Regions from separate parts of the Homo sapiens genome. Here region 2 is linked to region 1. Evidence: fine-mapped expression QTL. A gene starts in region 1. The other region holds a variant in brackets. All regions are shown on one strand. Distances are between the middles of the regions. Region 1 holds the start of CACNB4 (calcium voltage-gated channel auxiliary subunit beta 4). Region 2 overlaps CACNB4 (calcium voltage-gated channel auxiliary subunit beta 4).

Region 1 (16,425 bases):
AGTCAGGCATTCAAGACCAGCCTGGCCAACATGGTGAAGCCCAATCTCTACTAAAAATAGAAAAGTTAGCCAGGCATGTTGGCAGTCCCGTTATCCCAGATACTCGGGAGGCTGACGCAGGAGAATTGCTTGAACCTGGGAGGGAGAGATTTCAGTGAGCTGAGATTGGGCCACTGCACTCCAGCCTGAGCAACAGAGTGTGACTCCATCTCAAAAAAAAAAAAAAGTGAAATTTAGGCAATTCTATCCATCAGGAACAGAGACTCAGACATAAGTAAAAATGACTGGTTAACGGGTTAGCTACCCAGTAATTAGATTTCTTTCTTCATAAGCTCAGTTCAATTTATTTAAGCCCCAAAACAAGAAGAAGCACAGTTTGCCAAGAGCGACAGAGTTCTTTCTTGCTCTATCAGAGCAAGAGAAGATTCATTGCACAAAAAACTCACAAAGGAAATAAGCGCGAACTTTTTAAAGTTCATTGTAACTGGATTACACCATTTAGCAAGGAAGGTCTACTTACAGAGCAAGTAAAAACTTCCAACTTTGCAGATGAAAATGATTCAATACTGTCTACCATGCAGCTAAAATATAAAAATGGTTGTGCCCCAGCTTAGCCAACATGGTGAAACCTGGTCTCTACTAAAAATACAAAAATTAGCCAGATGCGGTGGCATGCACCTGTAGTCCCAGCTACTTGGGAGGCTGAGGCAGGACCAGCCTCCCAAGAACCCAGGAGGCAGAGCTTGCAGTGAGCCGAGATTGTACCACTGCACTCCAGCCTGGGCAAGAGTGAGACTCCTTCTCAAACAAAAATAAACATAAACGTAACTGGTTGTGCCCCTCCTTGGCTGTTTCCCTCAGATCCACTCCTCCCACTCCGCTGCTCTACTTTCCATCTCAGAGGGCCACTGCCTGCAGCTTGTTTCCCAGAATCCCAGGTCAGTGGGCTTCCAGAGAGGCTCAGCCAATGGGAGGAACTGGTAGAAGACTGGAGGGTGGAAGGAATAATCCTACAAGAAGCTAACCAAGCAAACAAAAATTCCATCCATGATAGAATTGGGAAGAAACCACAGTCTCTAAATTCTTCAACTGATGCTATGGTTCTTCACAGCAACCACGCAGATTCAGAACGTTTCCAGGATCTGAGAGGAATAAGCTCCATATGTCCTTGCATGTATCCACACCTGTGTGAGTTTGTGTGTTTGGCTTGTTTATTCAGGGATAAAGTGGATTGTGGTGAAAAAAACAGTAGAGTCTGAGCCAGGATCCCTTGTGTCTGTTCTACCATTATCTATTGGTATGACCTTTATGTCCTTGGGCCTATGTTTTATTCATCTGAAAAAAGAGACTGAAGTATTTTCTTTCTGCAATCTCTTCCTGTTCTAAAATTCTGTGATTCTAAGTTTATGGATAAATTTTGCATATATACATGCCTGTAGGCATATGATTATTCTTAGAGCTATGCGCAAAGCATATACCTTCTGTTGATGAATTTGCATTTCATCAGAGAAACATATCTATAACTGGTGCTCAAATTATAACCCCAAGAATTTGTTTGCCAACTTGTTTTATTCTAGTATCAACCTAAAAATCTGAATGTTTTAGATCTCTAAATACAGTGTGGTTCATTGAATTATTGTAACGATCATCTGATTAGCATACCTTAAAAAATACGAGGTTCCTTGTTCCAAGGTAGATGGTTCCAACAATGGCTGCAACCATATCTTCCATTCCATATGCTCTTTTTTTTTAATGAAATATTATTATACATTATTCTGTAACTTACTTTTTTCACTTGAATGCATTTCAAATGAATGTCTTAAATGCATTTCCATATCATTACACGCAGGGTGGCTTTATTTTTTTCTTTAATGGCTGAATAGTACTCTGTAGTATAATATATAGTAGTCCACCCTTAACCGTGGGGGATACATTCCAAGACCCCAGTGGATGCCTGGAACTACAGATAGTAACAAACCATATATACATTTACATATATATACATATATATATATAATGTTTTTTCCTATACATATATACCTAAGATGAAGTCTAATTTGTAAATTAGGCACAGTAAGAGATTAATAACAACTAATAATAAAACAGAACAATGTTAACAATATGTCATAATAAAAGTTATATGAAATGTAGTCTCTTTCTCATTCTCAAAATAGCTACTGTACTGTACTCACCTACATTCAGACCTCAGTTGACCGCAGGTAACTGAAACCAGGGAATGCAAAAATATGGATGAGGGCCCCAATGTACATTATTTGCTCATTTACTGACTGCTGCATACATATATTGTTTCTAGTTTCTCTGCTCAGTGTGATGTTTGCTGTGGATTTTAGTAGATAATTTTTATTAGATTTAGGGAGCTGCCTTCTCTTCTTTTTTTAAAATCACGTGCCTCTAGATATGCTCTATTCTTAACTTACAAAATTTATCAAATACTTTTTTGGCACCTACTGAAATCAACATATATTTTTCTTTAATTTGTTATATAAATTGAATAATCTTTACATTCCTGTTTATACTATTGGCACTGAATTTGACTTGCTGTTTTTTGGTGTGTGTGTGTGTGTGTGTGTGTGTGTGTATTTTTACCCATATGCTCTTTTATAACGTGACCTTGTTGCACCCCATCAAAAGATAGTCTGTTTTCTCTTTTGTTGCAACTGAGCAGGCTCTTGGACCTGTTTTGACTTGAGTTTGCAAGACAAGTGATACAGTGTAGCTTTCAAAACTGGGTCTTAGGAGAGCTGTGGCTTCAGCCTTCACTTCTTGGAACCTAGCCACCATATTATCCGGGAGCTCAAGCAACCATGTTGAGAGGCCCAGGTGGAGAAAAACTGAGCCGCTGCCAAAAGCTCTAGTTGAGTTCTCAGCCAGCAGCCAGCACCAACTGCCAACCACATGTGTGAGGCCACTCTGGACCTTCCAGCCATCCCAGTGCCCATATAACATCATACAATGCAGAACTGTCTGGTTAGTACACAGAAATAAAAAATTGTTGTTGTTTCAAGCCACAGAGTTTTGGGGGAGGTTAGGAGGCAATTTCTCCCCACTAAACAAAGCATTTAATGTTGGAGCAGAACCTCATGCCTAAAATATATCAAGTTAGTTCTCCATCCATCCACTGCTTCATTCATTCAAGTGTGTGTTTATTGAACATATACTATGCTAGATGCTGAGGACACAAAGATCAAATGCAGACATGTCCCTGTCCTTGTGGAACTCATACGGATGGGGAGACAGAATGTAACAGAGAAATCTAAGTACATGTTAAATAAAAGCGGTGGTGCTACTGAAAACTGGCACAAGGCCCTCTGGGAGCCCCTTGTTGGGGAACTGACTTTATCAGGAAGGTTAGAAGAGGAAGTGAAGACTAAACCCCCAGATCTCAGGGAAGATTAAAAGTTAACTAGGCAGAAGGAAGGACAACAACCTGCCACACAGAGGGCTCAGCATATGCAAAGGACCAGTGGCAAGAGGGAAGACAGTGTGTTCAAACTCTGTGTCCAGAGCTAAGAGATCATGGCTCAAGATGAGGCTGGAAGCAGGCAGGGGCCAGGCCAGGTATGACTTTGCTGGCCTCATAAGAGCAGACTTAACAAGGAAAAGTCAACAAACTATTCCCACTCTGATCAGATTTTCTCTTCAAACCCCAGTGGGAAGAGGACTAACTTGGAGTACTCAGCCGTATAAACTGTATGTGTAGTGACACCCATGGGTAGATATACTTATGGATATATAATAGATACTCGGGGTACATGGTCATTGAGCCCGCCCTCTCGTTCCTTGTTACATGTCACCGTACTGTTTGTAGACATCTCTGTCTCCATTGCTAGATTATAAAAATCTTTGAGTACAGGGGCTGTGTCTCATCCATCTTTTCATTCCTCCCCTACAATATCTAACATAGTGCTAGGCACATAGCAAATACTTAAGTGTTTCCTAAAACTTTAAAATATGACTAGATAATCCATTCATAAATAGCCTGTAAGAAGGGCTCTCCTGAAAGAAAATTCTATGGCCTCATTTGGAAAGCCACTCCAATGATGGCAACACTCTTAGGAAGGTCTTGCTGTAAAACATCATTCCTTTCTAATTTGGGCCAGTTCTTGAGTTTCATCCCCAATGAAGAGTGAGAACACTTCATCACATTTCCAAAGAAAGCCTTTGTGTGTACTTTGAAGATCATTTCTGGGTCACTCCTAGCTTTCTTTCCTTTCAGCGGCAAAGTACTTCATCTTCTCACCTTTCCTCAAAGAAGCCATTTATTTGCTCCCTGGATTCATTCCAAAACCTCCATCCCTCCTAAATGGTGGAAGCCAGAAATCTTGTAGACCAGAAACAAGGTCAAAGATTCCTGAGGGGCTTCATGAGCAGTCCTCAGAGTGGAAGCAGGCTCTCTTTCTCAGTCTGCTTGTTTTCCAGCCAATTCAAATGTTCATGTGTGTGCATGCACACATATGTGCATATATAGTCTCAGAAACACTGAAACTTTTTAACAAGCTCAAAGAACAAATATTGTCTTATTGGGTGAGTTGCCAACTGCCTTCTCTGCTTCACCAACAGCCCAGTCTTCCCCATCCAATGTAACACATCGATTTTTTTTTTAATGAAAGCTTTTCTCCATATTTTTGTAAATAATATGATAAAGAAACTAGCAATATATATATTTTTTGGTATTCCACTATCTTCTTCAAAGGCATCACAAAGACTGTGAAACAGCACCAAGAAATTTCATCACTCCAATGTATCAAGAATTCAAATATCAATAAATCACTGGTCATTCTACAAATAATGAGACTCTGTTTTTGTTTGTTTGTTTGTTTGATGGAGTCCTGCTCTGTCGCCCGGCTGGAATGCTGTGGAGCAATACTGGCTCACTGCAACCTCCACCGCCTAGGTTCAAAAAATTCTCCTGCCTCAGCCTCCCGAGTAGCTGGGATTACAAGCACACACCACCACGCTTGGCAAATTTCTTTGTATTTTTAGTACAGTCGGGGTTTCACCATGCTACCAGGCTGGTTTGAAACTCCTGACCTCAAGTGATCCGCCCACCTCAGCCTCCCAAAGTGCTGGGATTACAGGCGTGAGCCACTGTGACCAGCCCAAGGCTCTGTTAACGTAAGCAGCTGTTATGCTTTCATAAAAAATATTTTTTGGCATTGGGGTGATTTCAATTTTATCCGAAAGTTATTGTTAAACTGCATTTGTAATCATTTTCCTTATCTCATCAAAGAAATGTAAATCCCTCAGTTATTTTTATTGTAGCCAATACAGAAGTCTGTATGATGTCATTTGAATGAGATCATGTGTAGTATACTCAGTGAGTTGTAAAGTGCTCATAAAAATTAAGTAGCCCGGGCATGGTGGCTCACGCCTGTAATCCCAGCACTTTGGGAGGATGAGGTGGGCAGATCACGAGGTCAGGAGATAAAGACCATCCTGGCTAACACGGTGAAACCCTGTCTCCACTAAAAATACAAAAAAGTTAGCCAGGCGTGATGGCGGGTGCCTGTAGTCTCAGCTACTCGGGAGGCTGAGGCAGGAGAATGGCGTGAACCCAGGAGGCAGAGCTTGCAGTAAGCAGAGACTGCGTCACTGCACCCCAGCCTGGGCGACAGAGCAAGACTCCGTCTGAAAAAAGAAAAAAATTAAGTACTATTTTTGTGCCGAAAAATAAGATTGTGTATATAATACAATTACAATTAACTCCTGAATTTAAATTAGACCATTTAATCAAACCAATGAATTCCCATTTCATAGATGAAATATATTTATTTAAAAAAATCTACTTTGCTTTAAATTATTCCCAAAATTATTTAGCATGCAATACTTTTAACATTTCTTAAGCCAGCACATAGCAGCACGCTTTACAAGAACTTATATATACATCATCTCAATCAGTTACGGGCATAAATTGAGAAAAGAGTAAGAATATTAGAATATTATTTTGTTTGTGCTTGGAAGGAAGAATAAAGCATTAGTGCAGTTATGTAGATGAACTCAAAAGTTTTAGTCAAACAGCTTATGGAAAGAACTGCTGTGTAATTAGTATTTCCAAGAATTTGCAACAATGAAACACCACTAAAAATAGGCACCTACAAAATAAACACCAGCAAGACCTCAAACAGTTGCATAACAGAAAAATGTTTTTAAGATAAACAATATGTTTGCCTTATCAAATACATAATCTAAATACTGCAAAGGGGATAGAATGCACTTTTAGAATGAATTCGGAATCCAAAATGCATTTATTTCCATAATGTACATGCTTAGTGCTCGCTGAATTAAATGGTAGTCAAAATTTCCGCTTCTGCAGAAAGTGAAATTCTGCATAATAAATATCATCTAAATATGCTTTATAGACCCTTTTAGGAGAGGTCTGAGTTCAATTTTGATATCAATTCCTCGTTGATATGTTTAAATTGATGATAATCACTAAAGAAACACCAGAGCTGCCATCATAGGTTAGAAAACACATTACACAATACTGAGTGACCTAGAGGGAAAAGAACTTCTCAAGGTCACTCCAGCAGCCCACAGGAAGACCTGGGATAAAAGCCTCTTGGTGCGATGACCAATGTCTTCCTAGGTCACCCGAAACCTAGGACACACCCCGACAATTTCTGTTCCAAAGAAAGATCAAGGTGACTCATTGCATGATCTCTCTAGCACCCAGCAGCCAGGGGTGGTTTCATTAACAGCACATGGACAGTTGGAAAACTGAGGACCAATTTCCTGTGCCAAGGTGAAAGGCACCTAAGCATTGAGCATTACCAGCGATCCGGAGATCCCGAGCACAGACAATTCGCACTAGAACCACGCAGGAGAAAGCAAGCACTAAGAAAACAAACACGAAGTGAAGGCGCACCCAGACCCGGAGCTGAGTGCTGGCCTTCGTTAATTCCTATTTAACCAGATACAGCTGTCTTTCCCTAACTAAGCGAATCCAAGAAGCGGTCCTAAAGTGAGAGTAAACTTTCTGCTCAGTGTCTTTCTTTTGACCGGAGCTTGACGATCTCTCCCAAGATCCAGACAGATAAGAGTATTCAAATTAGGACAAAACAGAAGAAACCACTAAATCTCAACTCGAATCAAACCAGGTCCCCGGCCCCGAGGGGTCTGGTTACTCTAGGTCGAGTTATACGAATTAAAGACATTTCTCCACGCACCAAAGATACAACCAGACATATTTCCAGCTCTTAAATTCAACGTCCCTGACTTAAGCCAGGTCCCCACCGAACTGTCCACACACATGCACAAACTAACTTCCCGGGGCGGTGCGGAGACGCCGGGACGCGAAGACGTCAAGAGCCCAGGCTAGAGGGAGAGGGACTGAGCCCGAGCACCGGCCGAGGCCGGGAAGAGACGCGCGCGGGCTTGACCCGCAGCTCCCGCACGTGTGGGCCACGGCCGGCTCCAGGACCCCCGCGCCGCGCGCTCGGCCTCCTCCCCATCCTGGTCTCCCGCCTCCTTCTCATACCTGTCTGAGGATGAAGCTGGTCGAAGTGGTGCTGCCATCGGATCTTTTCAACCTGCTCCTCCGGGTTGTGGTGCCTCGGGCCACCTGGACTCGACACACGGGGGCCAGAGAGAAGCCGGTGAGGACCGCAGCGCAGAGCGGGGCGACCACCCCCGGCTGGAGTCCGCCTCCGGACCCGCTCCCTGGGGTCCCCTAGAGCCCGCACCCAAGTCTCCTCCGCGACTCCCAAATACAGCCCCCACCCCCACCCACCCACTGCAAGCCTCGACTGCTGAAAAGATGCTCGAGAAGAGCAGCCCGCAAGCACCCACCACATCCATTAACAAAGACTCTCAGGGTGCGGGGTCCGAGTCCCCGGCATCCGCTGGGGGAGGCTGCGGGCTCCGGAGCGGGAGCGCAGAGACCCGAAGGAGGGTGAGGAGGAGGAGGAAGAGAAGGAGGAGAAAGAGGAGGAGCGGGAGGAGAAAGGGACGTGGAGGAGGGGTGGGGGGAGCGGGGCCGCCGACTCCCGGGACTGGGGCCCCGCACGCCCGGCACGAAGGCGGGGCGCGCTAGGGCGGCGGAGGAGGTGTGAGGAAGGAAGAGGAGGAAGAGGAGAAGGGGGAGGAGGGGGCGGTACCTGCGAGGTGGGGGAGTGCGGCCCGTCCGCGGTCCCGTTCTTGGCGTAGGAGGAGGAGGACATCGTTCAGAGCCGCCGCATGGCCAGCCCGTGTGCGGTGGGCGGAGGGGGCTGGCCCCCGAGGCTGGGCTGCGGACGGAGGGGGAGGGCGCAGGACTTCCCCACCCGGCTCCAGGACCCGCGCCGGCGCCCAGGCTCCCTGCCCGCACTTCGGAGAGCGCGGCACCTTAAAGGGACCGAGGCGCTTCCCCCGCGCTCGCGGCGGGGTCCCGGGGAGGGGGCTTCTCGGAAACTCGCCTACCCGAGCGGATTGGGAGAAGCGCTCTCCCACCTAGCAAGCGCTTTACATCAGAGCTTCCAGAGGATGAAGGGAGGGGGAAATCTGGGATGGGGGTGGCAAGATTAAAATAGTCTGCACAGTTTAAAATGAGACAAAGGTGGCACGGTTCATGAATCAGGACTTGGGGACGGAAGCTGGTGCAGTGTGGCGGGAATGGGAAGAACCGAGCGGGTGTGTGTGTGTGTGTTTGCTGCACTGGAATTTTAAAAGGGCAAGAGCAGAGCCACCTTCCGCGACTTCACTCATCAGCCTAATGTGTAAGGCATGGGGTTTTGTGGCTTGCTTTTCGTCCGTGTTTTTGTATTGCTTTGGCAATTCTGTCCTTAGAGCTGCGAGTCACACACATCCAGGCAGCTGTGAGAAACCCAGCCAGCCTGAGTCTGACGGGAGATGCTGCCCCGCCAAAGACCAGTATGTCCTACGGAGTTTTGAAGGTCATGTTAGACCTGCTAAGAAGCAAGAGTTGGTCACTGTGCCTCCCATTTCTATGCGAATGGATATTTTCAAGGGGGAGAAACTCATCCTTGCAACCATACACAACGTTTGCCATTGGTTTCCTCCTGTAAATACATACAAGAGATTAATTTGTGATCAAATTAAAAGAGAGGGATTGCGGAAAGGAAGAATAAGTGCGAGGTATTGACAGAGGAATAAGAAGAGGGAAGAAAAGTATATGCAAATTCAAAAATAAAGAGACTCCGTTTAAATTAAAATATACTTACTATCTCAAATCGCTAAATCAGCTTGCATTCTAGGACTTTATGTTTATGGACACAACTACCATGCTTGTTTTAATAATTGCTTGGCTTTATTGAGGTCCTGGTTATATCTTACCATCCACCAGACACTTCCTTTCCATTCCTAATCCCTTCACTTAATCCAAACCTCTGTAACAATCTTATAACTAATGTCCTTGCCTCCAGGCTTCCTGGTGCATGTGCACGTATGCACATGCACACATACACACGCAGAGATTTCATTCCATCTACACACTACAGGCAAAACCATTTTCCTAAAATATCTTGCCCAAGTCACTCTTCTCTAAGATAAAGTCCAAACTCCATGGTCCAACAACTCAGCCTCTCCTGCATTTCTGATCACTCTCCATCTCATTTCTCCATCTTGATCTCTCTATACAAACCTTCCAGCAAGCAGGCAGGTCTAGTCATCAATACCCAAGTATTCCAAATACAATCACATTTGAGCTCTTCTGCTTTGGAATGCCTCCTTGGAATATGCCCTCCCAACAACCTACACACCCGGCTGAATCCTACCTTTCTTCTAAATGGGACTCAGCTCACGCTTCCTCCACAGAAATCCTATCTGACTACTCCAGTCCCACATAATTCTTGTGCTTCTGAAAAACTGGAGCATGTATTCTCTGGGCACTTAGAATAGGCTGCCTTAGCTTATTAGTTTGTTAGTTCTGTTTTTGTGAAAATCTCCTAATTTTCAGAATTTTTAGCGGTTTATCTTCTATTCCTATACCTTCCATATAGTAGATACTCCATGAATTTATGGGGAATGGAGGTCTAACCATGCAGGACTCCCTACTTTAGTTACTGTCAACCCAATCCGTATTTAGTTCTGAGCCATTTTCATAGTTGATACGTGTGTGCATATTAAATTACTATGTGAGCACTGGACTTTGAATTGTGTGGTTTTCCACTGTCCACATTCTCACTGACTTTAAGTTATTGAAACAGAACCCACAGAGGCATAACAACATGAGAAGCCCTGTACACCCAGCTCAAAGCAAAACTGGTGAAAATTATATGTTTTATATATAAGCAACCATTTAAATTTCTAAAAATGGTCCTAAAGGTGCACAACAAATGAAGGAACATTTATTCAAGAAAACCTACTGAAACCCAGTAAGAAAAGTGAGCTTGAGGTATTTGAACCAAGACCTACTCACTCTTTTCATGCTTCCAACTCAGAGAGGGCTCCACGCTATACTGGTGCAGCCAAGAACACAGGGCTCCCTCACCCTTCAGCTCCCAGTTGGAGGGTCAGCTTCCTAGGAGGGACAAAACATCAGCATTTGTCATCCTCCCCGCAGCTACCTGTTGTTGAGACTAAGTTCTAAGCAAGTATGGCAGAGGTGGGGGCTCCCTTCTTCTGCCCAGTTGTACCTGGAGGCTGTACCTTGGCCACAGCAGCACTGAGTGTACTTGGGCCTTGATCACCTTTGCTTCTGGCTCATCGAGAAAGAAGTCAGGAAACGTGGGACTGCTTTGAGTGCTTCTGCCAGAAACATTCAGCATCTAACATGGTGATGTCACTCAGAGAGAGGTGCATCATTGTCCCTACCTCTGACACCAGAGTGGAAAAAATGATGTTGAACCCTGACCTTACATCAAGGATCCCCAACCCCCAGGCCACAGACTAGTACCAGTCTGTGGCCTGTTAGGAACTGGGCCACACAGCAGGGAGTGAGCGGTGGGGCAAGTGAGCATTATGGCCTGAGCTCCGCCTCTTGTCAGATCAGGGGTGGCATTACATTCTCATAGGAGTGCAAACTCTATTGTGAACTGCACATGCACGGGATCTAGGTTGTGGGCTTCTTATGAGAATCTAATGCCTGATTATCTGTCACTATCTCCCCTCACCCCCAGATGAGACCATCTAGTTACAGGAAAACAAGCTCAAGTCTCCCACTGATTCTACATTATGGTGAGTATGTAATAATAATAGAAATAAAGTGCACAATAAATGTAATGTGCTTGAATCATCCCCAAACCATCCTCCATCCCCGTCCCATAGAAAATTGATCTTCCATGAAACCAATCCCTAGTGCCAAAAAGGCTGGGGATTGCTGCCTTATATCATATACAAAAATTAACTCAAAATTAATCAAAGACTTAAAAGAGTTAAAAATATAAAACTATTAGAAGATAAGGGTAAATCTTCATGACCTTAGATTTGGCAATAAATTCTTAGACATGACACCAAAAGCATGAGTAGGAAAAGAAAAAAATGTTAGACAGGCATGGTGGTGCGTGTCTGTGGTCCCAGCTAACCAAGAAGCTGAGGTGGGAGGATTGCTTAAGCCCAGGAGGTCGAGGCTGCAGTGAGCTGTGACACGTCACTGTACTCCAGCCTGGGCACCACAGTGAGACTCCATCTCCGGCTCAAGCAATACCTCAGTCTTCTGAGTAGCTGAGACCACAGGTGGGCACTACCATGCCTAGCTAATTTTTTATTTTTTATAGAATTGTAGTCTCCTTGTGTTGTCCAGGCTGGTCTTGAACTCCTGGACTCAAGCCATCCTCCCACCTTGGCCACCCAAAGTGCTGGGATTACAGGTGTGAGCCACTGCACCCTGCCTAATTGTATACTTTGAGTGGGTGAATTGTATGGTATGTGAATTATATGTCAATAAAGTTATTATTTTTTTAATCTTCAGATCTTACAGAAAAATTAACTCAAAATGGATTACAGACCTAAGTGTAAATGCAAAACTACGAAACCTCTAGGGGAAAACAGAAGACAAAATCTCCATGAGTCTGAGTTTGGTGTTGAGATTTTACACCACCACCAAAAGCATGATGCAAGAAAATAAAAATTGATATTCTGGGTTTAATTAAAATTAAAAATTTCTGCTCTGTGAAAAACTCTGTTAAGATAATAAGAAGACAAAGAACTTGTAAACAAAATATACAAATAACTCTTAAAACTCAACTATAATAGGCCAGGCTCGGTGGCTCACGCTTGTAATCCCAGCACTTTGGGAGGCCGAGGCGGGTGGATCACAAGGTCAGGAGATTGAAACCATCCTGGCTAACATGGTGAAACCCTGTCTCTACTGAAAATACAAAAAATTAGCCGGGCATGGTGGCAGGCGCCTGTGGTCCCAGCTACTCGGGAGGCTGAGGCAGGAGAATGGCATGAAGCTGGAAGGCAAAGCTTGCAGTGAGCCAAGATCACGTCACTGCACTGCTGCCTGGGTGACAGAGCGAGACTCCGTCTCAAAAAAAAAAAAAAAAAAAATTCAACTATAATAAACAATTCAAATAAAAAATGGACAAAAGTAGCAGGGGGTTGTGGCTCATGCCTGTAACCCCAGCACTTTGGGAGGCTGAGGAGAGAATTGCCCAAGAAGCCGGGAGATGAAGACCATTCTGAGCAACAAAGCAGGACTACATCTCTACAAAAAAAAAAAAAAATTAGCCATGCGCAGTGGGTGGCATGCGCCTGTAATCCTAGCTATTTGAGAGGCTGAGGTGGGAGGATCCCTTGAGCCCAGGAGTTTGAGGCTGCTGGGAGCCATCATCTCACTACTCTACTCCAGCCTGAGACACAGGAGACCCATCTCTAAAATTTGAAAAAAAAAATGTATTTAAATGAACAAAATATTTTAATGGATACTTTACCAAAGAAGACACATAGATAGCAAATAGGCACATGACAAGATGTTCAACATCATTTACTTTAGGGGAAATGCAGATTAAAACAACAATGCAATGCCACTATACACCTATAAGGATGACTAAACATAAAAATGATAATAGCAATGGCTAGTAAGGATAAGGAGCAATAAGAACTCTCATTCATTGCTGATGGTAATGCTAAATGGTACAGCCACTTAGGAACATACCTGAGCAGTTTCTTAGCAGTTTCTTAACAAGCTAAACCATCTTATACAATCCAGCAATCGAGAACCTAAGTATTTATGCAACTGATCTGAAAATTTGCATCCACACAAAGACCATGCAAATGTTTAATAAGTTTATTCACAATAACCCAACACTGGAAGCAACCAAGGTGTCCATTAATGGGTAAATGAATAAACAAAGCATGGTCTAATCATATGATAAAATGATAAAATACTATTCAGCTATCAAGTCATAAAAAAAAGGGATAAACCTTAAATGCATATTGGTAAATGAAAAAAGCCAGTCTGAGTCTATATACTATTTGGGATTCTAGAAAAGGCAAAGCTATAAAGACAATAAACAGATCAGTGGTTCTGGAGGGGGTGATGAAGACGGCAGGTTGAATAGGTGGAGCATGGGGGGTTTTTAAGGGTGATGAAACTGTTCTGTATGATACTGTAATGATGGATACCTAACATGGATCTGTCAAAACTATAGAACTTCACAGCATAAAGTAAGCCTTAATGTGGGTGAATTAAAAAGAAAATCATTGAAGATGTTGAGAGATCAGGATGGAATGCAGAATGTGACAAAAGAATATAACTGTATTACAAATATATTAAACAATGTCACTGAAGAATGTGGAGAAAATGGCTGCTGGCCTAAGTAACCCTGGAAATGAGTGGCGCCTGTAAGACTAAAAGGAACTGTGCATAAGCATTGTACTACGGTTGATACATTGTTTCTGAGGAGTGTGGGTTAACTATTCTGAAATCACTATATGTATACACTGGAACTGAACAATTCATTACATAGATGGCAAATGATGGGGGCCAGGTTTCCCACTGTTGGAGTGGAAGGTTACATAGAAGCAAGGGGAGGAGACTAAAATGATCCATGTGGTAATGGACTGGAGTCAGAGAATCTGCATGAACTCGAGGGTAACTTAAAAGATACAGATGGTTATATACAGAAATATTTATAGGGCCCCATGCCAAGGGTCACGCCTGTAATCCCAGCACTTTGGGAGGCTGAGGCAGGAGGCTCAATTAAGCCGAGTAATTCAAGGCCAGACTGGGCAACATAGTGAGACCTATCCCTACAAAAAACTTTTTTCTAAATTACCAGGGCATGGTGGTGTGTGCCTGTAGTCCCAGCAAATTGGGAGGCTGAGGTGAGAGATCACTAGAGCCCGGGAGGTTGAGGCTGCAGTGAGCTGTGATTGTGCCACTGCACTCCAGCCTGGGCAAAAGAGTGAGACCCTGTCTCAAAAAAAAAAAAAAAAAAAAAAAAAATTAACTTTTTAAAAAGAAATATTTGCCGGACACGGTGGCTCATGCCTGTAATCCTAGCACTTTGGGAGGCTGAGGCGGGTGGATCACCTAAGGTCAGCAGTTGCAGACCAGTCTGGCCAACATGGCGAAACCATGTCTCTACTAAAAATACAAAAATTAGCTGGGCGTGGTGGCTCTTGCCTGTAATCACAGCTATTCGGGAGGCTGAGGCACAAGAATCACTTGAACCCAGGAGGTAGAGGTTGCAGTGAGTCAAAATCATGCCACTGCACTCAAGCCTCGGCGACAGAGTAGGACTCCGTCTCAAAAAAAAAAAAAAAAAAAAAAAGACCCGGCGCGGTGGCTCAAGCCTGTAATCCCAGCACTTTGGGAGGCCGAGGCGGGCGGATCACAAGGTCAGGAGATGGAGACCATCCTGGCTAACACAGTGAAACTCCGTCTCTACTAAAAATACAGAAAATGAGCCCGGCGTGGTGGCGGGAGCCTGTAGTCCCAGCTACTGGGGAGGCTGAGGTAGGAGAACGGCGTGAACCTGGGAGGCGGAGCTTGCAGTGAGCTGAGATTGCGCCACGGCACTCCAGCCTGGGCGACAGAGCAAGACTCCGTCTCAAAAAAAAGGAAAAGAAAATAAATATTTATAGATAGCTGTATATACATGAGTTAGCATACATATATATATTCTCTTGCTTTCAGCTGAGGGCCTAGAAGCAATGACCCCTTAGTAGCAACAAACACATCTAGTACCAAGACGTTGGTTTCTAATACTATCCTTTAATAGAAGAAATCAGGGCAACCTTGGACAAATGGCTAATTCTAGGACTGGGGCAGGAAATATACAAGAGGAGTCTGGAGCATCTTAATAGTGTCAGAAAGTAAGGTAAGTGCTTTAAAAAAGAACCCCAGAATCAAAACCACAATGATGGGTATGTCAAAGGGCAATAGGAGCAAACTGAAAGAGCTCCTAATGGCCAAAGCTCGAACAATTTGAGTAATAAAAGTAGTATTGAATTAAAACCCAAAGTATAAAAGAAATACCCATGAGTTCATAGTGATAAAAATAAATGATCAAACAAATAAATACGTGGGAGAAAAGAGACAAACCTCCCATGTGGAAAATTCCACATAATTTATGTAGAAACTCTACCCTCAAGAAAGAGAAGAATAACTTCTCACCCTGTAAAGTGTGGGCTGCATATAGTGACTTCCTTCCAAAGAGTATAGCAGGAAAGGGAGGAGTGCAGAAACTCCACAAACGCTGCCTGAGCCAGGTGATCAAGATCAACATCAACAGCAATGTCGGGGTGATAGTATGTGCCCTTGATAGAATGCGACGAGAATCGCACTTCTGGGGTGAAAATCCACAACCTCAGCCTAATCATGAGGAAAATGTCAGACAAATCCCAATTGAGAACATTCTACAAAATATATGACTAGTACTCCTCAAAATTGTCAAGGTCATCAAAAACAAGGAAAGTCTGAGAAACTGTCAGAGCCAAAAGGAGCCTAAGGGGATATGACTAAATGTGATGTATACCCTGGATGGGATCCTGGAACAGAAAAAGGACATTAGGTGAAAGCTACAGAAACCTGAATACAGTATGAAATTTAATTAATAATAATGTATAATACTGGCCCATTAATTATGACAAATTTACCAGGAGAAGTTGTTAATAATCAAGGAAACTAGGTGTAGAATTCTGTGTACCAACTTAGCGATTGTTTGTGAATAAATCTAAAACTATTCCAAAATAAAAATTTATTTTTAAAAATTCTAAAATTTTAGAGCTGGAAGAGAATTTAGTAACTGTTTAGAAGAAACGCCACATTTAGCAAATTAAGAAGCTGAGCTCAAGAGAACGAACTGTTCAAGAGCAAGTGGCTGCTATTAGACTCTGCTTCTTTCCTAAAACATTCAATACGGCTGAATCACTTTGTCAGCTACAGATTCTCTCTTCATAAACTTTATTGTCACTTAATAAATACTTTCGTTAAGTGCTTCCTAAAGTCAAAGTCTTGTCCAAAGAGCCGTTTAAAAAAAAAAATGATTTGCAGAACTCACAGAGCTCAGGAATATA
Region 2 (16,425 bases), 230 kb before region 1:
TAGTAAATCTGAACCCCAATTGTTGCTTATTTCCACTTTAGAATTCATCCTAACTGCTGCAATCCATCGTGAGTTGTATTAGTTTTCTGTGATTTTCTGTGGAAAGATATTACTTTCAGTTATGACAGATTCATCAAAAAATAATTTGTATTTCCACGCTGGTAACGTAACAGCTGTAAGATCTGTCTATATTCTATCCTTGCTACATCCAATATGCAGCCCAGACAGTATAATAATTTTTGAAAACTTCTGGTATTAGTAGGGAAGAGTGTTCCGAAGAATGCAACAGTGCACTTTCAGGAGAATGGAAAGGCACAGGAGACCCGAGTATCTTCCTGGATCTTTGTCTTGGTAGTTGCATGAGTCATTCCATCTTTTGACCTCAGTATCCTAATCAATAAAATGGCAATAGTAGCTTTGCCATAACTATCTCATGGGGTTGCCATTAAGAGCAAATAAGGTTATATATAAAAGCGCATTCTTAAATAATTATTCATAGTGTCCTCTGTTAATAAACACATATATAATGTACACAAGGCAAACAATTATTGGAGATTTAAAGACTCGAAGGAGATAGTTTCCTTATGTCCTACTCTCAAAAGTGGGCAGTCTACCATGACCCCTCTCATTCCCAGAGTCCGTGAAATGTGGGTGAGAGAATCAGGTCAGATACACTGTACTCAAAACCTACTAATTTAAATATTCAAGTTTGACACTCAAGTGTTCAATTAATTATTACTGGTGTTTGAGTGGCTGTTTATGAGTCTGCATTTGAATAGAAAACAGTAGGAAGAATGCATAGGAGAATGAAATTGATTACGAAACGGAAGTTGCTGCTGTTCTTTTTCCATTTGTTGACTGCAATTAGAAATTATCTTCATTCTTATATGGCTTGGTTGCCTTGTGACAGCACCAATTGTTCCCATTTCTTTTTATTAATAAATACTATCGCTTTGAGTCTCCCTAAGTTGTATGTTTAGCTTCTTTTCTTTCAAATTCTTTCTCAAGCCCTTTTTTTCCCTTTATGTGTTCTTAGGCTAAAAGCATCCTTTAGCTTGAGATCCTATCTGTGTAGGTTACACGATGTTCATCTAAGATTTTTGGCCATGATCATTATCAGTTACAAATTGTCCAATAAATGTCACAGAGTTGATCTGATCCAGTTGTCAAAAGCCTAAAGTAACAACTTTTTGGGGGATTTGAAATGATTGGCATAGGTCAACAAACTGCAACTGGTTTGACTGCTGGCTGTTCAGCCTGTGAATGGTAGATTCAGCCAGCTGAACAAACCTCATCCAAATGGGTAATCCCCAATTAATATTTGTGGTGTGAAATGAAGAGAGAAGCTCCATGCCCATTGTGTATCCACTGTGTCGTCGTCAGCACAGGAATCATTGCTTCATGTAGATATTCAAAAATACAGAGGGCGCTCAGGAACTGTTTAGTATTGTGTTTTTCTTTTTCTTTCTTTCTTTCTTTTTTTTTTTTTTTATTGAGACAGAGTTTTGCTCCTATTGCCCAGGCTGGAGTGCAATGGCATGATCTTGGCTCACCGCAACCTCTGCCTCCCAGGTTCAAGTGATTTTCCTGCCTCAGCCTCCCGAGTGGCTGGAATTACAGGCACGCGCCACCACGCCTGGCTAATTTTGTATTTTTATTAGAGATGAGGTTTCTCCATGTTGGTCAGGCTGGTCTCGAACTCCCGACCTCAGGTGATCTGCCCACCTGGGCCTCCCAAAGTGCTGGGATTATAGGCATGAGCCACTGCGCCCAGCCTAGTATTCTGTTTTTCTTACATGTATTACAGTTAGGCCCCACAATAGCAGCTACAGCAATAAAATTGTATAATAAGTAGCTCTAAACTGACTCAAATAATTTCTAAGGTATCAAAAAAATCCCAAGTTTATGATTCTGCAATAGTCAAACTGTTGGACTTTCATCCAATTTGTTGAATTATTTTCTACTAAGATCTGAAAAGCAGATTAAAGAAGAAAGCCTCGTAGCCAACAGATCCCTTCTTTGTACTTTCTGAAAAATAATAGGACTTTCTCCTATTTTGTCTAACGTACTGCATTCATAGCCCATGAAACACAGAGTAGGTTTCCATTAGAACATATTGTTTATGCCGTGTCACTGTGCTAAAGCCTTCCTTGTCATTGTTCTCTTGGCTGGTTTCAATTAAAGACTATTTGTTTTTTTCTCTCCTTGTATCAATTGGTAAAACATAATGCAGCATGATGTTATAGCTCAAAACCTAACGATATTCCCCACGAAGAAGACATGTCAGAGTCAGTGTGACGCTACCAGCGAATTTCTTTCTTATCAAAGTCTCCACATACACTCAACCAAGGAACTCCTTATTGTTCATTCTGCTGCCTGGCCTCTTAATATTTGAAATCAAGTCCATTCTCTCACCCCTCACCCCTTTAATATCTACCTATCTTTCTCCTGCTGGAGAAATATATCAGATTTCTCCAGGGCTAAGTCTCTCTCTTCAGCTATTACTTTTGCTACTGCTGGGCTCTTCCTCCAGACCCTCTGCCATGTCATCAGACCCCATGAATACTTGAGATTGAAATTTGCATTCAATTTCTATTAAAACCAACTTCAGTAGTATGTGTACAGTAATGGATGCGACAATTCTACTTGATTCGAGACAAATCTCTGCTGTTACAATTAAATAAATTCCCTTTTTCTGGGCCTCAGGATTGAGGAAGAACATCAGATTCTTCATTCTTGAGGGCAAACCTTTAACAGCACTGTTGCGTATAAGTATGTTATAGACCAAAATAATCTAACACTGTCTTATGGGATGGGATTTGTTCAGATAGGGCTGTTATGGGGCCAGTGGATTCGGCACTGCTCAGAACTGCCTTAGGTAACAGCTCCACAGGTTGAAACCATGTGACTCCATACATATCTGAAGGAACTATGCACGTGCGACCAAGGCATGCTGGCTGCCTTCAATCCACAGGGACCTGCATGAGGGTTAGGGTTAAGGCCAGAGCATCAGACAGCAAGACCAAGACCAGCCCTATTAAGTTACAAAGTCAGAGTTCAGCTATTTTTTTGCAATGCTTTTTTAGAAAGTGTAATCCCAATAACCAAAAGTTTCAAACAGAAGCAGGTTGTCTATCTGATTGTGGTTATTGGAGAAATGATGAGTCTAAAAGACATTTTATGTATCCTTCCAACTCCAATGCTCTAGGATTCAGGGCTTTTAACTTATTTTCTTTGAAGCTACTTCATTATCTGCCTATTTCTTTTTTAAAGAGAGTGAAATGGAACAAATACATCTTTCTTATTAAGCCTTTGTCCAGTAGATGAATGTGACGAAGGCTATTATTGATTCAACAAATTCTATCTCCTCTTCCTCCTGGACTGCAAGAGTGCCTCCGCTGCAATTAAGTATGACCACATAACCAAGTTCTAACCAGTGAAATGTCAGTTGCGCTACCTCCAGGCCGGGCAAGCTGACTAGAGACATCGTACCTGGGCTAAGGGCCCCAAATGACAGAGGGAACAAACTTTCTGCCCAATTCTCCCCTCCCCCAACTCTATCCTCCCTCCCAGCCAAGGAACACCTGCTTCAGACTGTTAAGTGAGCAATAATAAGCTTCCATTGTGTTTGAATCACTACACATTTTGGGGTCTATTTATTAAGGCAGCCTGACCTATATACTAATGTACCTAGAAGCATTCTTATTTCTTAAACTAAAATCTGTTTACTAACTTTCTATATTGTTCCAGAAACTAATGAATATTTTACCCAATTATCCAGAAAGCTTTTATTTTAACAAATGCATACAATTTATATTTAAAGCAATACCATGCTTGTTTTTATTCTTAATATACCAATTTATTAAAATCTATCTGAAGTTTTTTTACATTTTAAAATTATTTTGTGCATTTAGTGGATTCTCATAATTTAGCAAAGAGAAAGTGAATGGCTTAATTACTGCCTTCAAAAATAAAGAATGTGATGTTTTTCTTCAATCCTACAGTAATAAACTGGATGCATTTGCCCATACTTTTTGATGCACCCCATTTAAATTTCCTACATTTCTGATAAATCTCAGGTTTTTTCATGTGGTTATTTTTACATGGACTGCATTCAGCACTGTGAAAGAGCTTAATATTTAGAATTGAGTCAATACAGGCTTTTTACCATTTCTCTGCAAAACAGAGAAACTTTCTTTAGAATTTTTCACAAAACTTAAATGATAAAATTATTTAATGGCTAATGCCTGAGCCATATTGTTGATGGATCATAGTAAAATACATTAAAAAAAGATCAATAAAATAACAAGGACATTTCTAATAAAAACAACCCACAACTATAATAAATATCCAAATAAGTACTATTCCCTACAAAATGATCACTTTGGGAGGCTTATGATTAAAATAATTCTCACTCTCTTCTTTTGAGGAAATTCAGTACTTGACATTTATGCTTTCATATGACACACACACACACACACACACACACACACACATACACAATTCCCAAATACTGCCTAGTTTGACCAGCAAGCCACTATACTCATGAGAAATATTATATATTTTAATTAATATTTTTTCATAAAAAACATTTTGGTATGAAATTATTAATAACTGAGAAAATAAAGATATATACATTTAAATAAAACAAATGGCTTATTTTTCTTCTCATGGTCCTTTCTTCACTGGGGACTCAATGTTATACTTCATATTTTCAGAGTTCTTTTATTATATTCTTCCCAAGAATACTGAGTTAACTTTTAACTAGAGAACTTCTGAAATCTCTGGAAACATAGATCTACAATTCAATTTATCACACAAGTTTGGTTAAAGGAAAATAAAAATACAAAAACATCTATATTTCTCACCTCCCATCAAACCTGTGCTTCAGGAAATCAAAGAGGGCTTTCTGCATCATGTCTGTTACCTTTGCAGAGGTGAGAAAAAAAGAATGAGGCAAACACATGCAGAGAGAGAGAGAGAAGTCAAAAGGGAGAGAGGAGGGAGGGAAGGGTACTATGAGCCAAGACCTTATTGTAGCCATTCGTCTCCTAGGGGGAGGTTACCATGGAAGGTGTTTTTCATGCTTAACCATGTGCAATTGCTAATTTCCACCCCCCTTGGTTCTCCTCCAGGGTGTTGAGGAATAAACCAGCAGTGTTCACCAGACCCTCTTCCCTCTTCCCTCTTCCCTCGTTAGGGGATAGAACTGCTGCCAGGAGACAACAGGCTGGCTTTGTACACAGGTGCCGGGTATCCTTGGCACGCCTGAGTTGTGCCTGCCTCCAGTGAGGAGCAGCTAGAGAACTGAGGCCAGCACTGGACTCAGCCTTCCTGCTAGTTTGTGTATGTTGGCGGAAATTCTCCATGCCCATGGCTGGATTTTTGTAGACCACTCTCCTGCTCATCCCTCTGACATTTCCAACTCTGAGAAAGACAAGAGAGAAAGAGAGGGGGATAGAGCCAGGATTCTTAGATCTGCCTGAAAGCGATTCATTAATTCATTCAGCAAATGTGTACTGAGTGCCTACTATGTGCCACACATTGTCCTAGCTCGATGGGAATGGTGCCCTGGAGGCTGCTCACCTTCAGAGTTTAATGTCACGTTCTACCTATTTTTTAATCCAAGCTAGCACAAAGTCAAAACAAACATCTGAAACGAAGTCTCTACTCTTTTCCTTGTCACATGGTTTTGTTTAATCTCCAAAGTTCACTAATGTTTTTAGTGGTCTTTTAAAACATGTGCCCTTTAAAATAAATAAGCAGAGAAGGATTTGGTGGCATATGCCATCATCTTAAAAACCCAGCAGGGTGAACTCTGTTTGGGCTTTAAAGGTTTGGGTTTGCTGGAAGATTGATTGTTTGTCCTCTTGTGCTGTTCATTCTCTATTACTTCTAATAATAATGAGAATGGTCAAGACAGATAAAGTCCTTTTCTTTGCATTTAATGTACAGCAAATCTTTGACCAGATCTTCCCATTGTGAATATTTTGAGGGAGGTATTTCTAAACAATGTAATACATAAAAGATGAGAAGTGTGCAAGAGAGGAAAGAAAGGGCAGAGGGCCTCATGAGCCCCACACGGTACCCCCTGCCTTCCCATGCTGAGCACTGGCTTCCATCAGGACCCACGTGGAAACAGACCCTTGAGGAGCAAGCGTCAACATGACTGTCTCCTGGGTGCTCGATCAAGAACTGAAGAGTAACAGATGATATTTGTACCTCGTAACCTTTCAGTGACGGCCCCACTAACACCACCGGACGCATTGACGGTACAACATCGTAAGGAGGAATGTGCTCCGTCTGAAAAAGATGATTCGACACGCGTGACAAGGTGAGGTTGAGCATGCCTCTCCACAGCCACAACATTCATAATTTCATAATTCTCAGGTTGAACGACAAATGATTATCAAAGTCCCCACCGAGGAGGCTCTTCCCTTATTTTATAGCCACTTGGGTCACTGAAATGGAGCATTGCAGGCATGTATATATAGGAACCTTAACAGTAGATTTAAAAAGGAAACACAACTTACCACTTTTTGCTTCTGTTTTGCTAAAAGACAATAACGAGAGCCATATCAAAATATGTAAACTCTGCAAATGACAGTACATGAGTTTAAAAGATGGAAGAATGTACCCATTTGTCCCTGTAATTATCTTCACCACCTTCCTATCGCCCACTTTGGAGAACCTGCCTTATGATTTCATTCTGGACACGTCAATTTTGAAGATGTATGAAAAACAGACAGCTTCCTCCCTGGTACAAATGACCTTATATCCTGATTTCTCACTGGGTGGGAATTGGGTACAGGAGTTGAGAGCAACACTGGAAGTTCCGGGCCAGCCAATCACCATGGGTTGTTCCCGTGCTGGACACAGCACAGTGTTGCTGGGAACAAGGTAGACAAATGCAATTTCATAAAAGGAAACAGAATAACCACTTGGGCAAAAATGACTATCACCTCAATCAATAGTTATTTTTATATTTGTTAACTCATAATTCTGCAGTCCCTTGGGCATTTTTGCCCATTTTCTAGAATATTGGCACATTTTTCCTACTATCTTGCTTCTAAATTTCAAATACATTTATAACCAGTTATTCCTCAGATAAATTTATAATGAGTTATTCCTGTTCTTTCCTGTTTGTAATAGCTAAAGTGTTCAATGTCCTGAATGTCCAACAAATGGGAACGAAGCAAAATATACTCAATAACTGATTTAAAGCGATTCTGTGGACATCCAAGCAGCTCCAGTCTAGTTGGGTACAACTCAGAAACCTGGTTTGGTTCAGTGTCCTGTAGATAAGAGGGCTTCACATGAACAAGGACCCAGACACTTAGAACCACTCCAGAACCAATCCAGTTGCCTCCAGTTTTGGTAGGCCAGAATAGGGCCTTGGACTTGCCATTCCAAATTGGTAATACAATTGGAATTGGTAACTAGGACACTGGATGCCCTAATGCAACAGCAGTTCTAGGCCAGAATGAAATTAGCCGATAGGAATCAGGGAATGTGGTAGAAGAAAAATTCCTACATGAATAACTCCATCGTTTCCAAATGTACCACAATTCCCTATTAGGCCACCAATATCTCTTCATTACCATTAATTCCAGGGCTTGGCTGTCTGCTGTCCAAATGTAAACGAGGCCCTCCCTCCTTTGGGCCCTGCCTTACTCTCTGCTTCAA[C/T]CCTTCCAGCTCGGGCTGTACTAATACATCCTGAAATTCCACATGGAGACTGAAAACAGCATTTTCTTGAGAGTCTGCATCATTTTTTTCCTTTTTTTATTGGCCTTCACCATCTTAAACTCTGTCCGTTCCTTAGGTAAAATAATGAATTTTTTGAATATCAATTTACACAATGGACAGTTATTAACACTGAGGGGTAAATAAGATTTTTCAAAATTATATTCTAATGACATGAATTTTTAATACCATTTTAAATGAAATCAAATTACCATAGAAAACAAATGAGAAATGAAATATTAATTAGAGAATCTTTAAATTAAGCCTTCAAATTGTTTCCAAATTAGCAAAACTACTTGCATGTGTGTTCAAATATTTTTAAAAGGAATACAGTGTATGAAAAAGAGTTTAACTACAACCCTCACCTGTTGATGTGGGAGTTGCTCGGAATGTCCCAGATACCATTTCTCCAAGACTTGAAGAAGAATTTCCACTTGATTTCCTAGGATATAGAAAAGGAACTAAAGACTCACTCCCCAGATTCTTTGAAAATAGAACTTGAGAGTACAAAGCTTTCTTTGGCCCTCATCCTATTAAATAATTCAAAACACACCAAATTCTGCTATAAAGAATTTCAAGAATCTATCCAAATGTTTTCTTTGACCTCATTTCTAAGAGAATGTGGAGAACTAGCCGAGACCTGGAATACTCTGCAAAAGCATCTCTTCTAGTTACTCAGTGCGGAAATCAGACAAAACCATCACTGACGGGAATGGTCTTATGAACTGCTTGTTAACCTAACACCAGGCACCAATGTGCCAGTCAGATGTCAAACACAGCTCAAAACAAGCAGTTAGACCTGGAGAAACCATTTCTTCTTACAAGATGATTATGTGGGCATCAGAATTAAGAACTGATCGTAGGGAATTGGTCACGAAAAATATTATTTATTTAAATAGAAGATCCTCAACTCTGGTCTCCTCAGGTGTGCTCTGGAAGCTTCCCTGAAGCCCACAAATGCCGTCGGGAGCTGCCACCTTCCTACTTTTTGTCTTTGACAAAAAAGTTATATGGCCCATGACTGTAACAATTAAGAAATAATAATAACAATAAAACTTTGAAAATGATAATAATTCAGTTATTTTATTCAACAAATATGGATTGTACATCCCTGTTTTGGAAAGTAGAAATAAGACAGCGGCATTGGGGAGACAAAATCCTTTCCCTTATTGAGTCATATACTAGTAGGACATATCAGTACAGGTTGAATATCCCTTATCCAAAATGCCTGGGAGCAGAAATGTTTTGGATTTCCACTGTTTTCAGATTTCGGAAATTTGCACTATATACTTAGTTGAACATCCCTAATCCAAATGTCTGAAATCGAAAATGCTCTAATGAGCATCTCCTTTGAGCATCATGTCAGTCCTCAAAAAGTTTCAAATTTTGGAACATTCTGGATTTCAGCTTTTCAGATTATGGATGCTCAGCTTATACCAAACAAGATAGATAGGTAAATATATAATATTTCTGAGAGTAATAAGTGCAACAGAGAAAACTAAGTCAGGGAAGGGATGGGAAGTACAGGGAAGGGGAGTGGGTACAATTTTAAATACAATTGGCAGGAAAGGGGTCACTGAAAGGGTGATACCTAACAAAGATATAAAGCAGATGGAGTGGCCGGGTGTAAGTGTGAAGAAAAAGGTTCCAGTAAGAAAAAACAGCAAATGCAAAGACCCCAAGACAGGAACACATGCTCCCCATGTGTCTAAAAAGGGGCATGGAAGACAAAATTTTAGAAAAAAAGGGATAATATGGTTTGGATCTGTGTCCCCCGCAAATCTCATGTTGAGATGTAATCCCCAGTGATGGAGGTGGGGACTGGTGAGAGGTGACTGGACCACGGGGGCAGTCCCTCATGAATGGTTTGGCACCATCTCCTTGTGCTGTTCCTGTGACAATGAGTGAGTTATAGTGAGATCTGATTGTTTAAAAGTGTGTGGCACCTCCCCGTCTCTTCCTCCTGCTCCAGGCATGTAAGACACCTGCTCCCGCTTGGCCTTCTGCTACCAGTAAAATCTCCCTGAGACCTCCCCAGAAGCAGATGCTGCCATGCTTCCTTTACAGTCTACAGAACCATGACAATTAAAGCTCTTTTCCTCATAAGTTCTCCAATTTTATAGAAGTGTGAGAACAGGCCGGGCACAGTGGCTCACACCTGTAATCCCAACACTTTGGGAGTCCGAGGCGGGCAAATCACGAGGTCAAGAGTTCGAGACCAGCCTGACCAATATGATGAAACCCCACCTCTACCAAAAATACAAAAATTAGCCAGGCACGATGGTGCGTGCCTGTAACCCCAGCTACTCAGGAGGTTGAGTCAGGAGAATCGCTTGAACCTAGGAGGCAGAGGTTGCAGTGAGCCAAAATTGCGCCACTGCACTCCAGCCTGGGCGACAGAGCGAGACTCTAAGAAAAAAAAAAAAAAAGAAGAAGTATGAGAACAGACTAATACAAGGGACAAGAGGGATTAATATTAATAATAGTATTGGCAAGTTATATGCTAAAAAAGATTGGTAATTAAAAGTGGGGTAACTATACTTTTGTGATCTCCTATTACAGTTGGTGCGGTTCTTATTATGACAAAGGTAGGCGCCTAAAGAACACAGGAGTTTTTTGAAATAGAAAAGCATTCAACAGAAAACAGAGGTTGAGGGTCAAGAGAAAGAGCTGCTTCTATTTTAGAACTTTCAAAAAAGTGTAACATATCAAATCAATGCTTCAGTGCAGGCTGCGACACAATACATGCAGACTCAGGATGATTTGGTTTCTCTTCTGTCAAGCTGTGCTTGTGTTCCTGGGACCTTTAAATACCTGCACTCTGAGATCTACATGCCTACTTCAGTAGCTCACTAGAGGTTGATTCACCTGAAGCTGTCTTCACCCAAATACCAGGAGACAAGAGATGCCACAAAAAGCCTGGGGTGGAGAAGGTACTATCAGTGCCGGGACCTGCACATACCATCACATTTTTTTTTTTTATTGATCATTCTTGGGTGTTTCTCGCAGAGGGGGATTTGGCAGGGTCACAGGACAATAGTGGAGGGAAGGTCAGCAGATAAACAAGTGAACAAAGGTCTCTGGTTTTCCTAGGCAGAGTGTGTGTGTCCCTGGGTACTTGAGATTAGGGAGTGGTGATGACTCTTAACGAGCATGCTGCCTTCAAGCATCTGTTTAACAAAGCACATCTTGCACCGCCCTTAATCCATTTAACCCTGAGTGGACACAGCACATGTTTCAGAGAGCACAGGGTTGGGGGTAAGGTCATAGATCAACAGGATCCCAAGGCAGAAGAATTTTTCTTAGTACAGAACAAAATGAAAAGTCTCCCATGTCTACTTCTTTCTACACAGACACAGCAACCATCCGATTTCTCAATCTTTTCCCCACCTTTCCCCCTTTTCTATTCCACAAAACCGCCATCGTCATCATGGCCCATTCTCAATGAGCTGTTGGGTACACCTCCCAGACGGGGTGGTGGCCGGGCAGAGGGGCTCCTCACTTCCCAGTAGGGGCGGCCGGGCAGAGGCGCCCCTCACCTCCCGGACGGGGCGGCTCGCCAGGCAGGGGGCTGACCCCTCCACCTCCCTCCCGGACGGGGCGGCTGGCCGGGTGGGGGGCTGACCCCCCCACCTCCCTCCCGGACGGGCGGCTGGCCGGGCAGAGGGGCTCCTCACTTCCCAGTAGGGGCGGCCGGGCAGAGGCACCCCTCACCTCCCGGACGGGGCGGCTGGCCGGGCAGGGGGCTGACCCCCCACCTCCCTCCCGGACGGGGCGTCTCGCCTGGCGGGGGGCTGACCCCCCCATCTCCCTCCCGGACGGGGCGGCTGGCCGGGCAGAGGGGCTCCTCACTTCCCAGTAGGGGCGGCCGGGCAGAGGCACCCCTCACCTCCCGGACGGGGCGGCTGGCCGGGCGGGGGGCTGACTCCCCCACCTCCCTCCCGGACGGGGCGGCTGGCCGGGCAGAGGGGCTCCTCACTTCCCAGTAGGGGCGATACCATCACATTTTGTGCCCACTTAAGGGAGAGTCTCTGTAAGCGAACCAAGAGGAGCCATACTGCTGGTTCAGGTCAGCTCCCACTCACTGTGTGGAGAAAGAATGCCCGAAGTGACTCTCCTAGAGGAAAGCTTGGGTTCCAAGGAGGGCTTGCTGAGGCCACAGAAAACAGTCTCTGCCATGGAATTCATATGGTCTCCAGTGGTGTTAGGCTTCAGCATGCACAGAGGATAGAGAACTATCTGAAACTCTTCTGTGTCAGTTTCAGAAACACTTTGCACACAGAAAAGTATCTTCTACTTTGAAAGTATACACCCTTGAAAATATCACCCAATTTTCTGACCAAAAAAAAGTGCATAGAAAAGATGGGAACGTACCCTCCGTGAAAACGTCCTCTTTTTTGTTCTTGCTGGATCCGTATGTTCTCCAATCTGAGTGGACTTGGAATGAAGCCAATTTCACAGCCCTCTTTCACCAGCCTTCCTATCCACCAATCATTGTTATATTTCTGGAATTCAGAAATAAAATTGCTATCAATAGTAATTCACTTATCTTCACGTTGTTTATTAATCTTAGGGGACAAGAAGAATAAAATGCTATTTATATGATATGATATGCTATATTTTATATAAACTATATTTTATATGTATATGTGTGTATACTATATTTTATATACTATACTATAGACTATATTTTATATGTATATGTGTGTATACTATATTTTATATACTATACTATATACTATATTTTATATAAACTATATTATACTATACATTTTATATAAACTATATTGTATATGTGTATATATCTATATATCTATACTATATTATACTATACATTTTATATAAACTATATTGTATATGTATATATGTATATATCTATATATACTATATTTATATAAACTATATTGTGTATGTATATATGTGTATATATACCTATACTATATATTAATATAAAGTATATTGTATATGTATGTGTGCATATATAGATCTATATATACACATAGATAGCTATATATACACATAGATATCTATATATACACATAGATATCTATATATACATATATATCTATATATACATACTATATATATATATATCTGAGGTAGATGCATAGACTAAAGCAGGGTTCTGCAAACTTTTTCTGTAAAGGTCCAAGTAGTAAATATTTCAGGCTTTGCAGACCACGTGGTCTCTGTTACAATTAGTTGAATCTGCTGTCCTTGTGTGAAAGCAGCCACAGACAAACATCAACAAGTGAGCATGGCTGTGTTTCAATAAAACTTTTCTTTACAAAAAAGAGAGTGGGTCAGACTGGACCTGTGGGCTATAGTTTGTGAATCCCTGGACTAATGTCTGGTCCTAACCTTTGGATTCTTTTGGTCTTTGTCAAGAAGCTCTAACCAATTCTTAAAGAACATATTTTATAAGGATAAATATGCACCAATGTAACTGGAACTCTGGAAGGCAAGACAGATATGTCTGAGATGAAATACATTTAATAGTCCATAATTTGTCAAAAGCTTTCAGTTAAAAATTCCACGATACTATCTGTGGTCTAATCTCACTGGGGAAGAGTCATGATCTTTCAAATATAGATTTGCAAATTAAGGTCCATCTTACTACTTGAAGAAAAAGATGCCTACACTTACAAAGTCTGAGCGTATTATATATTTGTATGTGAAATTTTGCAAATAACTTCCAAATGCTCTGAAGCCCAAGAGGAACTCCAGAATTTCCATTTAAGTTAAGTTCCATGACAAGCAAACTCAAGTCTATGAGAAGGCTTCAACCAGTGTGGGGTGAGAGTCTGTCAATGTGGGCTTATTTGGTGGATTGGCAAAATTGCATTTCTAATTATACATTTGCTGAATTATACAGCAGAAAGCAATTTAGTTCAAGCTCCCTGCCTCAAGGAAAGGTTTCAGCTAGGTCACTTCTACAAAATAGATACCAGCTCTATTGTTTAAACTCTCTGGAGATGATTCTAAAAACTTCCTTTACTGTTTTTATCAGTGTTGGGCAAGATAATTCTCTCCTATTTTGACCCAAAATATATATATTTATAAACATATACTTTTTTCAAAATGTAACAATGATATGTAGTATATTTTGCTGAGCTCATAGAAAAGCGAAATTTATATATATGTCTGTGTGTGTATATATATATATATGATTCTGATACATTATGAAGGAGGAATGGAAGGTTTCATTGAATAATCACACCATGAAGTTCTGGGTAAACTTTAAATTATTCTGAGTAACAGCTTCACACTCATGAGAAATATGTTCTGGTAAGAATTTGGCCTTTGTTATGCACACAGCTTCTCCATGCATACTATATGAGTGGCATAAAGTATGAGATTGCATTGAAATAAATGTAAATTGAGGGCTGGCCATGGTGGCACATTCCTGTAATCCCAGCACTTTTGGAGTCTGAGGTAAGAGGATCAGTTGAGGCCAGGAGTTTGAAATCAGCCAGGGTAACATAGCAAGACCCTGTCTACACACACACACACACACACACACACACACAGTTAGCTGGGTATAGTAGTGCACCTGTAGTCCTAGTGTACTACACAATACTACACCATTAGCTAGCTATACAATTAGTGTAGTGTACTACACAATTAGCTAGTATAGTAGTGTACTACTAATTACCTAGTGTACTACACAATTAGCTAGTGTAGTGCACTATACTAGACTACACAATTAGCTGGGTGTAGTAGTGCACCTGTAGTCCTAGCTACTTGGGAGGCTGAGGCTGAGGTGGGAGGATCACTTGAGCCCAGGAGTTCAAGACAGCAGTGAGCTGTGATTGCATCACTGCACTCCAGCCTGGAAAACAGAGCGAGAACCTGTCTCCAAAAAAATAAAAAAGAAAAGAAAAGAAAAAAATGTGAATTGACCTGATATAAAACCTTGAACAATCTAGGTCTTAGTTGTTTTTCCCCACTTTCCTGTCTTTTAGTATAACAGGCCTAAAATAATAGGTCTGTTTATTTTGGAATTAACAAAGGGCAAAGGGACCCTTTTAGAATCTTGGGTGCATAGGTCTGGAATTTAAATTTTACTGTGTTGAGGACAAAACAGACCATGAGTCATAGTTTCCTAGGGCTTAAGTTACTTCCTGAAATGAAGTGGCATAGCCCACTGGAACACTCATTTGTTAAATGGCACCCAAATGACTTTAAAGGGCTTGCTGAAATGGTTAATTCAACTTCCCAAAATGTTTTAACTTAGTTCTAGGAAACAGCGAAAGCACAGTGAGAATCTGACTCAGGAGGAATGAATTTTTTGAGTTACTAGGGAGAAAGTCACTATGTAAAATCAAGAGCTTAATTTGATCATCATTTGGCTTATGTGACAAGCATAGTTGTAGCTTTTCTCTGCATTTAAGCTTTTTTTTTTTTATTATTGAGAAACTACTTAACATGGTGCATAATAGATGGCCTTCTAAGTGATGGATGAGAGGGAAGGCTATAACTTGATTATAGAAATGTATTCATTTGTGTTGATGTTCTGGGAACTTGTGCCAGCTCTCTACAGAGGTCACCTCGGTGTTGTTCCAACCCTTCTCTATTTGGATTTCCCTAAAATGATTAGCACTTTCTATATCAAAGATGTTTTCTTATCTGATAATTTCAAGACATGAAAACAAGAGGCTCTGGTCCACATAAGATTACCAGCTCAATGTCACATCAAACTGCCAGACTGAAGAGAAAATCACTGATCAACAAGCACATAGCTCAAACAGCAGCCAGGACAAATTGAGACCTTGATACAATGCAGGAAAGCAATCAAATACAAGGTTGGAATGTTGGTGTGAGTGAGTGTGCATGTCACATGTAAGAACATCTCTTACCTTTTCAAGTGGTGCTTCTCCTTGGACACAGTGGGTATTAGCAACTAATGAATATGGCTTGGGCATTTTTGATGGAAATGGTGAGACATAATCAACTTAACCATTCAGATGCCAGGGCACATGTTTCAGGTCAAGAGTTCTTGTCTTCTAGACAAATGTAGACATCCTCACCTCATATACCATCAAGAAAGTAGAGGCCATGGTTGAAGTTGATGGGTCCTCAGTTTCCTATTCCCAAGGCCCTGAAGTGTCTGTGCCTGCACTCATCTTTTCCCTGCATGTCACAATGAATTAGCATTCTTCTTTCTATCAAAGGTCTGTCCCTCCACTAGGGGTCTTGGATCCCACCCTTCTTGGCTACTCAAACACTTTACCCTTTTGCCTTTCTGTTTCCCAGAGCCCTCTGCCCTTTTCTTAGCTGTAAATCTTTCTTTGAATGATTATACACTCTAGTGTTGGTTCCATAGTCAAGGTGCACAGCACTATAGTCTACATGTCTATAATTACAACATCCCCTGTAAACAGTCCCTTCTGGGTAGGTGCCATGACACCAAACTTACATTTTCCAAAGTTGGATCCATATATTTATGGCTCTGCAGTCACAGAAGGGGATTTAAAGGTGCCCAGAGGACCATAGAGGTCTGTCAGAAATCTATGCTATAATTTTAAGGTTGACTGTGATTTAATGTTGTCAGTGTGTGATAATGCAAGCAATGATCTCAGACTTCTCAATCTTAATGAGAATGACTAGATTTGGGAGGCTCAGCAAATTAAATCATGTACTGCACTGGCAGCTCCTTGGGTCTCCTCTCTGGCTAGTTTG

The links. PIP is the estimated chance that this variant, and not a neighbour inherited with it, causes the effect.
Region 2: its variant is fine-mapped to the expression of CACNB4 in testis (GTEx, PIP above 0.99).

The regions. Positions count from the first base shown.
Region 1 is chr2:152,090,832-152,107,256 of GRCh38, forward strand. CACNB4 (calcium voltage-gated channel auxiliary subunit beta 4) reads right to left here and starts at 8,213. Exons shown (of 14, transcript NM_000726.5): 1 at 8,118-8,213; 2 at 7,499-7,582. The coding sequence starts at 8,180. RefSeq lists a silencer at 8,122-8,411.
Region 2 is chr2:151,864,309-151,880,733 of GRCh38, forward strand. It overlaps CACNB4 (calcium voltage-gated channel auxiliary subunit beta 4), which reads right to left. Exons shown (of 14, transcript NM_000726.5): 5 at 12,118-12,248; 6 at 8,109-8,185; 7 at 6,534-6,553; 8 at 6,223-6,303; 9 at 4,869-4,927. Among named protein-coding and RNA genes, the nearest start is that of ARL5A, 44 kb to the left of the region's middle. RefSeq lists an enhancer at 10,639-11,312. The variant C/T (reference allele first, on the strand shown) is at 7,687.